2 linked regions of the Homo sapiens genome follow. The protein of the gene in region 2 interacts with the protein of the main gene of each other region in a biochemical or structural test. Each region holds a gene or a part of one and is shown on either strand. Other genes may lie near its edges.

Evidence for each region. Proteins that work in one complex are often made in the same cells at the same time.
Region 1: the proteins of TIMP3 (region 2) and MMP2 form a complex in vitro, tested with the Homo sapiens proteins (one study listed by BioGRID).

The regions. Positions count from the first base shown.
Region 1 is NC_000016.10:55,496,198-55,503,197, forward strand, and holds part of MMP2 (72 kDa type IV collagenase isoform 1 preproprotein), read left to right. Parts: intron 1-728; coding exon 729-865; intron 866-2,091; coding exon 2,092-2,251; intron 2,252-6,581; coding exon 6,582-6,691; intron 6,692-7,000.
Region 2 is NC_000022.11:32,797,454-32,804,761, reverse strand, and holds the start of TIMP3 (metalloproteinase inhibitor 3 precursor), read right to left. Parts: upstream 3,058-7,308; 5' UTR 2,761-3,057; coding exon 2,640-2,760; intron 1-2,639.

The DNA of each region.
Region 1 (7,000 bases), on a different chromosome or scaffold from region 2:
TTCTCAGGTGACGCAGATGCTGCTGGTCAGGAGACTGCACTTTGAGAACCAGTGGCTTATACCAATCAGTATCTACCCCTAGAATGGGGGTAGGGGACACAGGGTCAGAGGAGGTGAAGGCTGGATCATAAATGTGGAGTTTTGTGAAGAAGGATGGTGGGGAAATAGATAATTAATGCTAGGTAGACCATCCAGAGTGCATGCTGTCTTAAAAGATTGTGGGGATTAAATTACAAGGCACATAAATAAAGCACATGGCATTTAGTAGGACCCTCAATAAATGATAACTCTTACTCTTGACAAAGTACACAAATTCATTTCATTTTAATTCAGGAAATACTTGAGTGTCATCAGCTCCTGCCCCAATTGGCCTCTAATCAAATAGGAGAGTTAAGACAAACAGACACTACTGTTCCAGGCACTCAGAGTTGATGATTTTGAGAGGCTTAGAGAGGGAAAACACAATATGGATGGAGGTAGTCAGGGAAGGCTTCCTGGAGGAGGTAGAGGGAGAGAACAGGGTAGGAGGATGTTTCTCAGCTCCAGCAGATTGCAGACAGGAACTCTGCCCGTTCTCCAGTCCTTCTCCAACCTTCCTTTGATCCTGCCTCCCACTCCCATCATGGAATCATCTCTGGGATGTTTCTGGGTGGGTTTGGGGGTGTGTGTGGTTCGAGCTGCAGGGTGACTGAAGATGTGGTTTCCTGTGCCCCCTTGCCTCCTGCCAGGTTCATTTGGCGGACTGTGACGCCACGTGACAAGCCCATGGGGCCCCTGCTGGTGGCCACATTCTGGCCTGAGCTCCCGGAAAAGATTGATGCGGTATACGAGGCCCCACAGGAGGAGAAGGCTGTGTTCTTTGCAGGTGTGTGGGAAGCACCCTTCCTTGGCCCTCAGCTCCACAGGGCTCTGCACCAGGGCTCCTGGGTGTCCCAGGCTCACTCCCCCTCTCAAACCACAGTTCCTATGCACCCGTGGGTGCTCCCTTTCCTTTATGGATTCATTCTTTCAACATTATTTCCTGAAGTGCGCAGCTCCTCTGGGAGATTGGTTCCGACACCCAACATCAGATAGCATTAACCCTCAGTGTACACATTTCATTTTCTTAATTCTTTTCAATCCGTCTCATTTCTTTTCTAGAAGAAAAAAAGTCTCAGTTTAGTGCTGGTGTGTCCCTAACGCCTTTGTAGTGATACAGTCTTTGGCAGGTAACAGTTTTAGTTCGAATGTTTTAAAGAATATTTGTTTTCATTTTTACTTTTAGACATAAATTGGTTTTAACAGAGGCAGTTAGTTATAATAGTGTGGAGTTTCAAATCAGGACAGAAACGGATTATTCAGTAACTGATATTTTGACAGTCAAAAAACATTTTTTAATAAATTTATTTTTAAAGATTTCAAAATGAATTCACTGAAAGCAGAATGTTAAGTAAATAATAGTACAGGGAGCCCCTAGAAGTGGTAGAAATCATCAAGGTGAGGTCTGTATGGCTAAGGTTTACTCATTTAACATTTATTGGAGCATTTCCATGCGCTGGGCTTTGCCATACCCTGGGGATACAAGCTCTGCCTTCGCGATGCTCACAAACCACTCAGGGAGACAGACAGCTGGGCTCTTATGAGGGGTAAAGAAGGATTTAGGAGGTCCCTGTCCTGGTCTGAGGTGGGATCCTAGAGAAGATAAAGGCTCAGCCAAGACTATTGTCTCCACCACCTGGCTCCCACCTCCCCCAATCCACCGTAATCATGGGTCCCGGAGAGGACAACTGCTGGCTCCTAGGGCACCTTTTTGCAAATTAGCAAAAGGTGCCTCTTTATGACAGCAAGGCCCTTAGAGTGCACGACTTGGTGAGCAGAGTGTGAGCTGGATTTATCCCCCAACTCATGTCCTTGACCAGGCACCTTCTGTAATTGACTTCTAAAGCCCTCTGTGTGAGCCCTGATTCTGGGCACTGCAACCAGGAGTGAGCAGGAAGTTGCACTCTGTTGGGAATGGCTGCAGTGGGGCCCGTGGACAGACAGATGATGGGAGGAACAGGCTGGCCTAGGGCATGTCAGCACCAGCCAACACACCCTTTGCTTCCACCCCAGGGAATGAATACTGGATCTACTCAGCCAGCACCCTGGAGCGAGGGTACCCCAAGCCACTGACCAGCCTGGGACTGCCCCCTGATGTCCAGCGAGTGGATGCCGCCTTTAACTGGAGCAAAAACAAGAAGACATACATCTTTGCTGGAGACAAATTCTGGAGGTAAGGGAGGGCGGTGGGTAGGACAGCAGCACAGTTGGCTGCGAGAGACAGAGAAGCCGCCCTGAGGCTTCAAGCCTCCTGGGCTGAGTTCAGAGGTTGGTGGGCTCTGGATGCCCTCTCTCTGGTATCTAACCTCTTTGGTCTCTGGCACCTCTGAGATGTTGCCAAAGGTGAACCATTCTTGTACACATTGCTGATATAATTCTGGTGGAATATCCTTTCTCTTTGCAGAATTCTTTTGATTGGCCCATGTCTGGTCTGGACCCTCACATTTTGAAATGACTCACTGAAGAAGGGGGTAATAAAAATAAAGATAATAACTGCTCCTATTGACACTATGTGTCAGAGACTGTCCCAAGGGTTCTATGGGATAGGAATTATTATTCCTCCCATTTTACAGATGAGGAAACCTGGGTTCAGAAAGGTTAGGTAACCGTGGCTGGGCACAGTGGCTCACGCCTGTAATCCCAGCACTTTGGGAGGCCAAGATGGGTGGATCACTTGAGCTCAGGAGTTCCAGATCAGCCTGGCCACATGGTGAAACCCCATCTCTACTAAAAATGCAAAAAAATTAGCTGGACATGGTGGTGCATGCCTGCAATCCCAGCTACTAGGGAGACTGAGGCAGGGGAATCACTTAAACCTGGAAGACAGAAGTTGCAGTGAGCTGAGATCATGCCACTGCACTCCAGCCTGGGCAACAGAGTGAGACTCCAACTCAAAAAAAAAAAAAAGAAAAAAGAAAGGTTAAGTAACCAGCTTGGAGTCACATAGCCAGGTAGGGACAGGTTGGGATTTGAACCCTGGCATTCTGTCTCCTGGGAAAACATGTTAGTCTTCACTCTTCACTACTATTCTATACCCGAGATGGTGGAATGGGGGTTCCAAGAGATGGGGGAACATGAAGGCAGTGGACAAAATATGAAGAAGACTTAGAGATGGGTGCACCAGTCATCCATAGAAGCCAGCATCCAAATCAGACCCCATGGAAGGAGCAGGTGCCCTGTGTCATGCTCACAGCAGGCCCGTGGCTGTGGGTGCAGGTTGGCAGGGGAACAATTTGGAAGCAGATGGTTCTGTGCTCCAGGTTATCTACAGGAAAGGGTCCAGTTCTGAGGGGCTATAGTCATGACCAGGGAACCTAATATCCAGGAGTGGCTGGTGAGAGGTAGCCCAAACCTCAGGAGTTTGACTGTAATTCTTCACACTTTCTAGAAAAGGAAACGGAGGTCCAAAGAAATTAAATAACTTGTTCAAGCTATAGAGATATGTGTATTTGCACAAAGCCAGGATTATAGCTACTTCTCTTGTATTCTAACTGAGTACCCCCTCCACTATACCTGCCAGTCCATTTGATTAGTGAGGAAAGAGTGGTCGGGGCACAAAGACTTGTGGTGTGTCTTTCCATCCCCTCCCTCCTGGTATCCCCACATTCCTTCCATGGCTGCCACTGCATCTGGGCCCTACCCAAGAATTTTAGAGGGCACTTCCTGAGGCCTTTGTCTGCCATCCCCAAAACAATCCCGCTTACTTCCTAAGGCCTCTGTCTTCTCCCCCTTCCCTCCTCCCCACTACTCTGCCCCCCAGCTGCCCTGCATTCAGAAACTCTTTATATCCCAGGCCTGCCCATGTCAGGGTGGAATTCCAGACATATTGCTAAGACACTTAGCAACCTAAGCTGATTGATATCTCAAGCCTCAAGAAAGAAAACAGTCAGGCAGGAAACCACAGAGCAGGCTTTCCACCCACCAGCTCCAGACACTAGCCCCAGACAGTGTGCACGCACACGCACACACACACACGCGTACTGCGAATGGCATCTCAGCATTGTAGGAGCCCTGAATCTCCAAGTCTTAGAATTGTGGCTGGTGAGCCGCACAGACTCACAGAAACGTGAATCTTAGAATCCTAAAGCCCTGAAGTTTTCAAATTATGGTGTTGGAAGAACTTTTTAAATCACTTTTCCATGCACTGTATCTATGTAAACATGCAAAAACAGACCTGTTCCTAGCATATAGGAACATGATTGTGTGCGCATGTGCGCATACACACACACACACACACACACACACACACACACACACACACACAGGCATGGAGGTTGTGGCAGTGCCTTGCTGGATTTCCAGGCAGAGTTATTTGCCTCCCAGTCCTTTTCCACACAAGCCCACCTCCCAAAGCCAGAGCCAGGACAGACAGCGTGCTCTACAGAGGAACCACCCTGAGACTTCCTGAAAAGGGACAGAGCTGAAGGGCCTATCAGAAGCTCTGGGCTGGCTTCCAAAGGAGACAGATCTCTATTCCAAGAGAAGTGGTGAATGAGCTTGTGACACTGGCCCTGCCGTGGAGTCTGCAGAGGCCCCAGAGGCATCTTTGCTGGAGAAGGAGAGAGAGCCCCAGAGTGACAGAGGCTGAGCAGCTGTCTTCAGCATGCCAAGAAGAGCTCAGGCCCTGCTTGTAGAAGCTTTCACTAAGCCACAAATATATGTTCCACATCTGCTGTGTGCCAGGCACTTAGCTAGCTGCTGGAGAGACGGGGGTCAAAAAATCATCACACCCTGCCCTCATGTAGTTTATAGTAGAATGAGGGAAAATTATGTAAACACATTTGAATCAGATAATGATGGCTCTCAGTATGGGGCCTCTACCATAGCCCAGCCTGAGGCTATGCAGGTCACCTATATTTCTCAGTTGAGGTAGATACTGTTAGCTCCTTTTCCCAAGTGTGGAAACTGAGGCTAAAGTGGCTCAAGGAAAAGCTGGGACACAAATATCTGTGTTCTTAACACCTGCTATACATGGCAACTTCTACAGCTGCAGAGAAGTACCACATCTTCTGACACCACAGTGCTTGTATTCTTTCTGGATGAAAAGAACTTGGAAGCAAACTAATTCTCTTATCTGAGACTCAGTTTCCTCATCTGTAAAATGGGCTTGACTTCTGCCATCCCCACCTTCTGTGGGTAGAATGAGAAAGAAATGAGGGCCAGTTCAAGTGTGGGACACACATCTCCAAACTATCCTAACGCTAGGGAATGTAGTTTGAGGGCTCAGTGGAGGTGCCTTGGATGGGAGTGTTGGGATTTTGAGCTAGGGAACTTGGTTTTGGTGACCCAGGGCATGAGGAAGCATGCCAGGTTTTGTAAGAATGAGTTTTATGCTGCACCTGGGATTAAGGAAGGCGTTAGTTCTTCGGGGTGATGGCTGAGGGAGAAGTCCCTTTGAGGGAGAAGTCTCCTCTAGAAGGGAGCATATAGGGAAAGCTGCTGTTGGGGTCCAGGGTGGAGGTGGTCAAGGCTGGCTGCAGAAAGGAAGGGAGCCCCCTAGGAGGCACTGTGGAGCAAAAGGTGGCTGCTACCAGGATGGGATGCGAACACAGATTCATCTAGAAACAGCTCCACTTGGGCAAGACTTGTTTACTAGGATATCCATAGCTCCCATAGTGGGAGCTCAGTAAATATTTATGGAATAATGAAGTGGAGAGGCAAAGGAATCAACATGACAGCAGCATTTAAAAAGTTCTCCAAAAATCTTAAAAGACAGAAGGATTGCTAGCCAGGGAGAAGAACATACTAACCGATGCCCAAAGTATTTACCTGAATTAAAGGCGGGGCCCAGGATTGCTGCCGCCGGAACTGAGGTGGCATGTGGCCCACCCTGTGACTAACAGGCCTTGGACTTACACGTACCTTCCACCTTGCATTGTAACCTCACTGCCCCAGCCATGGTCATCTCCCAGGGCAGGGACTGTCATCTCCCTGTGGCAGATGAAGAAGCAGCAATTTTTCCAAGCCATGAAGTGAAAGAATGATGGGGCAGATTCCCATCCCTGGGCTTCTAGTTTAGCACTCCTCGGATTACAGCAGGGATTTGTTTGTAAGGGAGCTAACATTTCTTAAGTACCTACTAAATATTTATGAGACATGGGGATAGAGGCTCTGCATGTGCTGTTTTATTTAATGCATGCATTAAATTAAATACACTAAATTAGACACAACCCCATTTTACAGCTGGTAAAACTGTAGCTGTATGGAAAGTGGTTAACACACTGTTTGGCATGTAGTAAGTGCTTTATAAATGTTAGCAGTAATCATGAGATTGTTTTTATGGGGTCATCCAAAGTCATATAATTAAAAGTGGTAGATCTGAGGCTCAGACTCAGGTCTGATTCCATGCCCTTCCTTCCACTGCAGCTGGCTGCTTCCCTGAAGGGCTAGGTCCAGTTTCCGAGGCCTATCCAGGAGCCATCAGCTGGGTGCTCCCATCCAGGCCAGGGGGGAAGTGTCCTTTAGAGAGGCCCTGCTGGTTCACTGTGTCTGTTTCTTTACAGATACAATGAGGTGAAGAAGAAAATGGATCCTGGCTTCCCCAAGCTCATCGCAGATGCCTGGAATGCCATCCCCGATAACCTGGATGCCGTCGTGGACCTGCAGGGCGGCGGTGAGCCACCCAGGACTGTCTCCGCTTTCTAGGACTCCCCGCCCCTAGCCAGGGCCCAGCTCCTTGCAAATACACACTTCTTTATTGTGCAGGGCAGGCAGGCAGGCGGCGCCCAGGAAAACAAATCAACTCCTTCATCCTAGTGCTGGGAAGGTTTCCAGATCCCTGACCTCTGCTCCTTGGCCTGGCTCCAGGCAGTAAGACCCAGAAAGACTTCTCACAGCTGCAGGGCCTGGAGCCAGGGCAGGGGAGGGCGGAAGGCCTGGGCCAGGGGAGAAGGAACATGGGCTCTGTGCCGTGGATTCATTC
Region 2 (7,308 bases):
CCTAAACACTTCCATAGGGTGCAGGGCCTGGAGTTGCCATAGAAACACCTTTTAACTCCTCCTCCCCCAGAATGCCATGCCAGGCCCTAGGACTTTGGGGAAAAAAGACAAAAAGAGACACCTGTGGATGAGCAGAGACAGGAGGAAAGGCCATCGGGCAGCCCCCCGGAGAGGACCAGGCCAGGCCTCCTGTGCCTTTTGCTAGGCCAACATGGCACCAAGCCATGAAGAGAAAACCACCATGATGGTTTTAAAACAGGAAGTTGATGGGCTGATGTGAACACCTTTAGGGGGCTACAAAGTTGACTGGTGGGGTTGTGTGGGTCCCAAGGAATGGGGAGCTCCTTCATATTTGTTTGAGGGCGAGAATAGACAGTTTCAACCCAGACTGGAAACCAGAAAGGCTCTGAGCAATGAAACTTGGGAGCCAAGTACTGGACGCCAGCAGGGTGCTGTGCAAGGCGAGGGAGGTCGGCAGGCAAGCAGCTCACACCCACACCTCCCATTTTAAAAGCATTAGCTCATCCCTGCCACTAGTGCAGCTCACCAAACCCAGGCAGAACAATTTGGGATCCGTGCCAGAGCATCGAAGATTTTTTGTTTCTTTTTTTCTTTTTGATTCCACAATCTCCTGGTCTTTGGCTACTTCCTGGTAACTTAGATTTTCTCTGAGAAATTTATGAAGAGGAGCGAGGGAGCTATTTCTTGTTTCAATCCAGAGAAATTGTAAGAAACTTTCTGCATTGCTCAGACCCACCGCAGGAAACCTAAGCAGTAAGCAGACGGGAAGGCCCCCATTGGAAGCAGGATCTACTCATGCTTGTTTTCACTTTTCCGTGGTCAATTTTTAGGGTAGAAACCCCAAAGCAAAGGGCAAGGGGGAAGAATGGGGACCTACTCCCACTACATACCAAAAAAACGCAAGTGAAGTCACCCAGCCCATTTTCCAGCAGAAAAGGACTTGGGCTGCACCCCTGCACACCCTGATTCCACCTGCCAGCCTCCTGGCCGCACGTGTGTGATCCTGCTGGGCAAAACCAGAACTCAGCTGCAGCAGCAACTCCCCACACTAATCAGGTGGGAATGTTACCAACTGGGATGAGGAGGGAAAGGGTAAGTGGAATGTGGGTGGAGGTGGAGGAGGGAGGAAAACCCTCCCCAGTCTTCAGGCTGCCCAAAAGGATCTTTCTAAGCAATCCACAAATCCTGGGCCAGCTGGGTTCCCCCAGGAGAGGGGAGGATGTACCATGCAGGCCCCAGGGAGCCTCTTACAAGGGTGACCTCAGGTCACACAAACACCCTCAGCTGCCAACTGCACTGACATTCTGGTCACCACACCCCCACTCTGACCTCTAGGCTCAGCCCAGCCCACCAGCAGTGCCCCTCCCGGCCCTCACTGCCTCCCCTGCCAAGCTCCTACCTCCTCCCCCTCCTCACCACAACACGCTGGTAGAGTCCCTCACCCAAGACTCAGTGGAAAATTTCCTTCTCCTTTATGACTGTACTTAAAACACACACGCTCCATTCTTCACCTCTGAATCGACACAGGCAGAGGGCGGCAAGGCTGTCCCACCCCACCGCCCAGCCCAGCCCAGTGCACACACACACACTCTCCCAGCAGAGCCACTGGACTTGCACGCTTTATGGGCTGGAAAGGAGGAGAGAGATGTTTCCCAGATGCCACTCCACCTTTAGCCATCCAAACACAAGTGTCCCAAACACTCCCAGACAAGCCTCCCAGGATGCTCTCGGGGCCCTCCATACACACTAAGGAGTAGGAGGTCTCTTTACAGGGTCTCTCTACTCAAGACACTAAGTCCAGTCTGGAACTGTCACCGTGATGTGACCCTTGGCAGGTTTGTTCTTTTGGTGACAAATCTGTTTTCCACTACCCATTCTCCCCCTCCCCACACACATTCAAGGGGGAAAAAAATAGCCTTCCTGTGAATTTTCACAGCTATGTGGTGAGTGACCCCTCGCACCTTCTGCTGGCTATCAACACTCTCAAACACAGTGCCTCCAGGGCGTGGGTCAATGCCACAGCTTTCTCCTCATTTTCCCCCTTAAATCCACCCAAACTTGGCAGTCCCAGAAGCTCGGTTAGCGCTTGCCTGGGAAGCCTGCAGCTGGGTTGGGTCTCAGTGAAAAGAATGAATTTCATAGGCGCAGGAGATGATGCAGACTCGGAGTACTCCAAGTTTCTCCTGCAACTTTCCGTGCACATGGCGGGCAACTTTTTTTTTTTTTTTTAACTATTCAATTTCCCAGCACTTTAGTTAGCATTCCAAGTTTTGGGAACCCTTTCCCCACCCTTCTCTTCTAGCCCTTCCTCCGTTAGTAGTGAATGGGGACATTTTCCAGATGTCAAAAGGACCGGTAGGAACCTCACGACCTAAGTTAGGAAAGCAAAGGCGGCCAGGGGCTCCCTCAGCCACTGTGAGTTTCCTCTGCAGGGCATCTTCCCCTCTCAGCTATGCCAGCGCCCCCGCCCAAGGACATCGAGTTTCTCCACTCCGCCCCAACCCCGTCTGCCCCTCTCCTGGGGCAGAGGAAAGGAGTGGGGCTCGCCCTGCCTCCCTAAGCAGCGCTGCAGTCCTGGCTGCAGCGTGGGGCTCGGGCGGGGCACCAGGAGCGCTTACCGATGTCGGAGTTGCAGAAGGCGTCCTGGGGGTGGCTGGGCGAGCATGTGCACGCCTCGGCGCCCCAGTCCCCCAGGCTCCAGCTGCCCAGGAGCACGATGAGCCCGAGCCAAGGGGTCATTGCCGCTGCTGCCGCCGCTGCCGGGGCTGCTGCTCGCCTCTCCAAAGTTGCCGTGCGCGCCGCCGGCGGGGCTGCTGCAGCCCGAGCTCGCTCGCCCGCCGGGCCGTGCGGGGCAACCTTGGCCTCCGGCGCGCTGCCCTCCGAGTGCCCGGCGGGACGGGATGGGGCGCAGCGAGGCTGCCTCGGCGCTGGCGCAGGACTCGGCGGGCGGCCTCCCGGCGAAGGAGCAGGAGCTGGAGGAGCAAGAGGAGGAGGAGAAGCCGTCTGAGCGCCCGCCGCCTGCCTGCTGCCCGCTCTGCGCCGCTGCCTGGGCGGCCGAGTGATATAGCGCTGGGCCCCCGGGGACCCCGCCTCGGGCTGTTGGGGCCCGCCCCCTCAGACCAATGGCAGAGCCGCATTACCTCATCGGCCCTCCAAAAAGGGGGCGGGGCCGGGGGCAAGGGGTAACGGGGCGGGGCCGCCCCCGGATCGTTCAGATCCTTATAGGGAATAATGCCGCCGTGGGCACGCGAGTGGGTGGGCTGGGGCGCGCCCGGGACCGGTGCTTGCCGCTGGGTCCTCGGAGCGGAGCCCTCGTGCCCCTTCTCGTCTGCGCCCTGGCCCCACGCCCACCTGGGCCACTGGGTGTCTCTGACCCAAACCAGAACCAACTAACACCCACCCACCCCAGCAGGACCGCTTCCACAGGTGAGGGGTGGCCATGTCCTAGAGACCTTGACTGTGCTTGGTGGAACCAGCGGGGGAATGCTAACTGCTACCCCTCCAGTTTCTCTGGAGAGAGCAGGCACAGAGGAGAAAGACCCAAACTCTCTCTCTTTCTCTCTCTCTCTGGTTCTTACTCTCTGGGATATGGGAAGCCATCTGCTGTTTGCAGCTGGCTATGATATATGATAGAAGACTGTTTTCTGTGCTCTCCCAGAGCAAACGGGGTTCTGTATTCATTCAACAAACACGGTTCAGGATGCTGGGTTAAGCAACACAAAGCCCTTGCCCCCGTGGACATCCATGAATGCACAGGGTGATTTTCTGTGATGCTAGGGCTATGAAGAAAACAAAACAGAGTTCTGGGTTGGACATGACTGGGGAGGGCCTGCTCTCTCTGCGATAGTAAGGGAAGGGCTCCCTGAAGTGCCATCCTCGCTGAGAAGTGGACAAAGACAAGGATCAGCTCTGGGGCAAGCCACAGGAGAGAGGTACCAGGCAGGGGGAACAGCAAGTGCAAAGACCCTGGGCATGTTTGAAAGACAGAAAGTAGAAAGGCAAGAGGAAGTGGTTCCCTGCCCATGGCTGACAGAGCTCCACCCTTCAGCAAGGGATTTGGGGGTGAGCTGATCCAAAACTGTAGTAAAACCAGGAGAACGATCCAGGATCCTAGACGACTAGCTATAATAGATGATTGCAGATAACTAACACAATTACTATCCTTATTATTGACATCTTGATTCTGCTTTGTATTTTTAAAAGCAGGATTCTGTATCTCACCGTATTATAGCTCTCACAATAATCTTTGTGGGTAGGAAAAGCAAGCACAAGTATCACTCCCACTTTCCAGATGAGGAACCGGCACAGAAAGATGGGATGATTGGTGGCCAGCCAGGAACTCGTCACCCCTTTCCACTGCTCCTTCCCATCTGAAGAGAGACATGCATTTCCCTGAACGTCAGCAGCTGTTCCATCTAACTGCAAATGGCCATTTGCAGCTGGGATCTTCCATCTTTCTACACTTTTGTCTCTTTCCCTTTCTCTTCCGCTTCATCCTGTTAGAAATGCCACAAGTTTGGAACAAATAGAAACAGGGAGAAATGCAAGTTCAGCTTCTTTCTCAGAACTCCTCTGTTTACATCTCAGACAAGTGACATTGGGACAGCAGAGGCCGAAGAATTCGTGAGAGATGGTATTTCCAAGAACATTTTTGAAACTCCTTTTTCCCCTTTGAGCACTTTAGCCATAGGAAAGGGAAACCAGTTTCCACATCTTTTTGACTTGTCCCCTCCACCCAGCTTTAAAAACCTTCCCTGCCTTCACTCTAACTGTGGCCTAACTCGTAGAGATGTTTCTGTCTCTCGATGTTTTTCTAGCACTGTTTTCATTGTTTTATGGGGTATGATTCTATTGCTTCCCCAACCACAGTAGGAATACTTTGAGGCCTGGGATATTTAGCCACACTGCTTTTTAGCCCTCTCAGAACCAAATAGGGTCTCAGGAGACTGGAGAGCATGGGTGTGGCCAACAGCTGACTGAGTCCTGAGCAGAGTGCCCTGGAGGCCACTCTAAGGATCCAGGTTGAATGAGGGCATACGTGGTGGAATTTGAGAGATTCGCTTATCCCCGCGCCCCACATGACTTATTCCACAGTCATGTGGAAGGTTTTAGAAGACTTTCCAGACCAAATCCACTTTGGATAAGCATCTTACATGATAGAGGCCCTCTCTTCCCTTTCTTTTCACATTTCAGTTTTGTCCAAAGTGCCGATATTTTCTCCAACGGAAGGCCTTGCCTGGAATATAAGTATCAAGTAGATAACTTCTGCTGAACTTCAAGCAGCAGTTTTCTCATAGAAAGCATCTGAAGCGTTTTTTTCCAGCAGCTACTTAATTATGAAAGCACAAGTATAATCTGATCTTTTTTCCAGCTGAAAAGTAACGAAATTACCTTTTGGTTAATTTCTTCTCACTCCCTATCCTAAGCTGGTCCACACAGTGTCTTGAAGTTCAGCGAATTCCAAGAGCTTTTCAGTTGGGATGTTCTCTCTTATTCCAAACCTGAGTCAGTTCCCCTCTGCCCACCGTGTGAAGGCAGTTTGGTTCTCACCCTAAGGAAAAGAAACAGCAAACTCCATGAATCCTTGCGTAGGGGAGTCCTCCTGCTAGGGTCACCCCCTTCAGCAGGCACCCATCAGTCTGGATGTCATGGTGTCCATGAGCCTAATAATATGTAAGAATTGGTTATTCAACATCACTTAATAAGCTAGGTGGGGTGAACCTGAGGCTAACAGTAAGAATGAAGATGCAGGCTGGGTGCGGTGGCTCACGCCTGTAATCCCAGCACTTTGAGAGGCCAAGGTGGGCGGATCACGAGGTCAGGAGATCGAGACCATCCTGGCTAACATGGTGAAACCCCGTCTGTACTAACAACACAAAAAATTAGCCAGGTGTGGTGGTGGGCGCCTGTAGTCCCAGTTACTTGGGAGGCTGAGGCAGGAGAATGGCGTGAACCTGGGAGGCGGAGCTTGCAGTGAGCTGAGATCATGCCACTGCACTCTAGCCTAGGTGATGGAGTGAGACTCCGTCTCCAAAAAAAAAAAAAAAAAAAAAAAGAATGAAGATGCAGGCTCTCCTGCTTTCTCTTGACAGCTAAGAACAATGATAGAGTTATACATCTGGGAAGAACTGAGTAAGTTTCAAGATCTATCTGGCCTGTCTACACACCTACTAGGATGACCTGGTATTCTCTTTCCTGGAACTTTTCTAGGAAAGGTGAGTTCATATCCACCCTCTTTGTATCAAGTTATAGGATGCTAGAGTCTGTAGGAAGAGAAGTCGTAAAAAGGACCTCAGAAACTACTCATCCTTGTTTTAAATGTGGGAAAAATAAGGTTCAGAGAAGTGAAGGAACTTGCCCATTTTCAGGGCTCAGTCCTCCAAGCTGTAAGGTGTGGCCCATGCTTGTACTGTGGGCTTGGAAACCCCAGCCATTCACAGATCTCGTATCTGCTTTTCAGATCTGTAGACAGATTCGTTTGAGTCTTTGTACAGTGCCCAGCCCACAGAGAAATTTTACTTACACTGATTAAATAATTCTCTACCATGATAATAATCACCCTCTGAGCCAATCAGAAGCAATACAGGTTTGTCCTCCTGACAGGTTTATCTCTTGTGTGTTTATTTTTTTCCCTTCCTAAATTACTAGCTAATGCATTCCAAACATATCACTATAAAAAAAAGCACATGAAAACTTTGTTTCTGGGAAATGAAAAGAGAGTAAAGTGGAAACAAAAAATCAAAAGACCTGAGATTTGTTCCCAATGTTGCAGAATAGCTGTGCACCTGCCTTGGTCAAGTCACTTTGCCTGTCCAGGCGTCCACTTCTGTGTTTATTGGATGAAAGATAGAACTCAGTGGTATCCAGGATCCCTCTCGCCTCAAAAACTCCAAGATTCCATGGGGAATCCTGTAGGACAAGTGAATGCTTCTGAAGGGGAGATGGGTCCTGCCATTTAAACAGGTTTGACACATGGGAACGTACCCAAGACTGAAGACCATCCATCAGTTTCGCAACGAACACTGAGTTCCTATATTGCTACCTCCCCCAAGAATCAATGCCGAAAACAGAATTTCAGAGAAGATTGTGATGCCAAAGTCCTAGGAGAGACAGGCTCTGGCTTATGGTGGAGCCCAGTGTAGTTATGCGTTCACCTGCTTGTTTGTCTCTTGGATCGTAGCACTAAAAAGTTAGGAAGGTGTCTTTTTTATCACCATTTTTTTGGTCTTCAGGAGTTACTGAACTCTTCCACATCCTTCAGACCTCAGCTTAGATGTCACCTCCTCC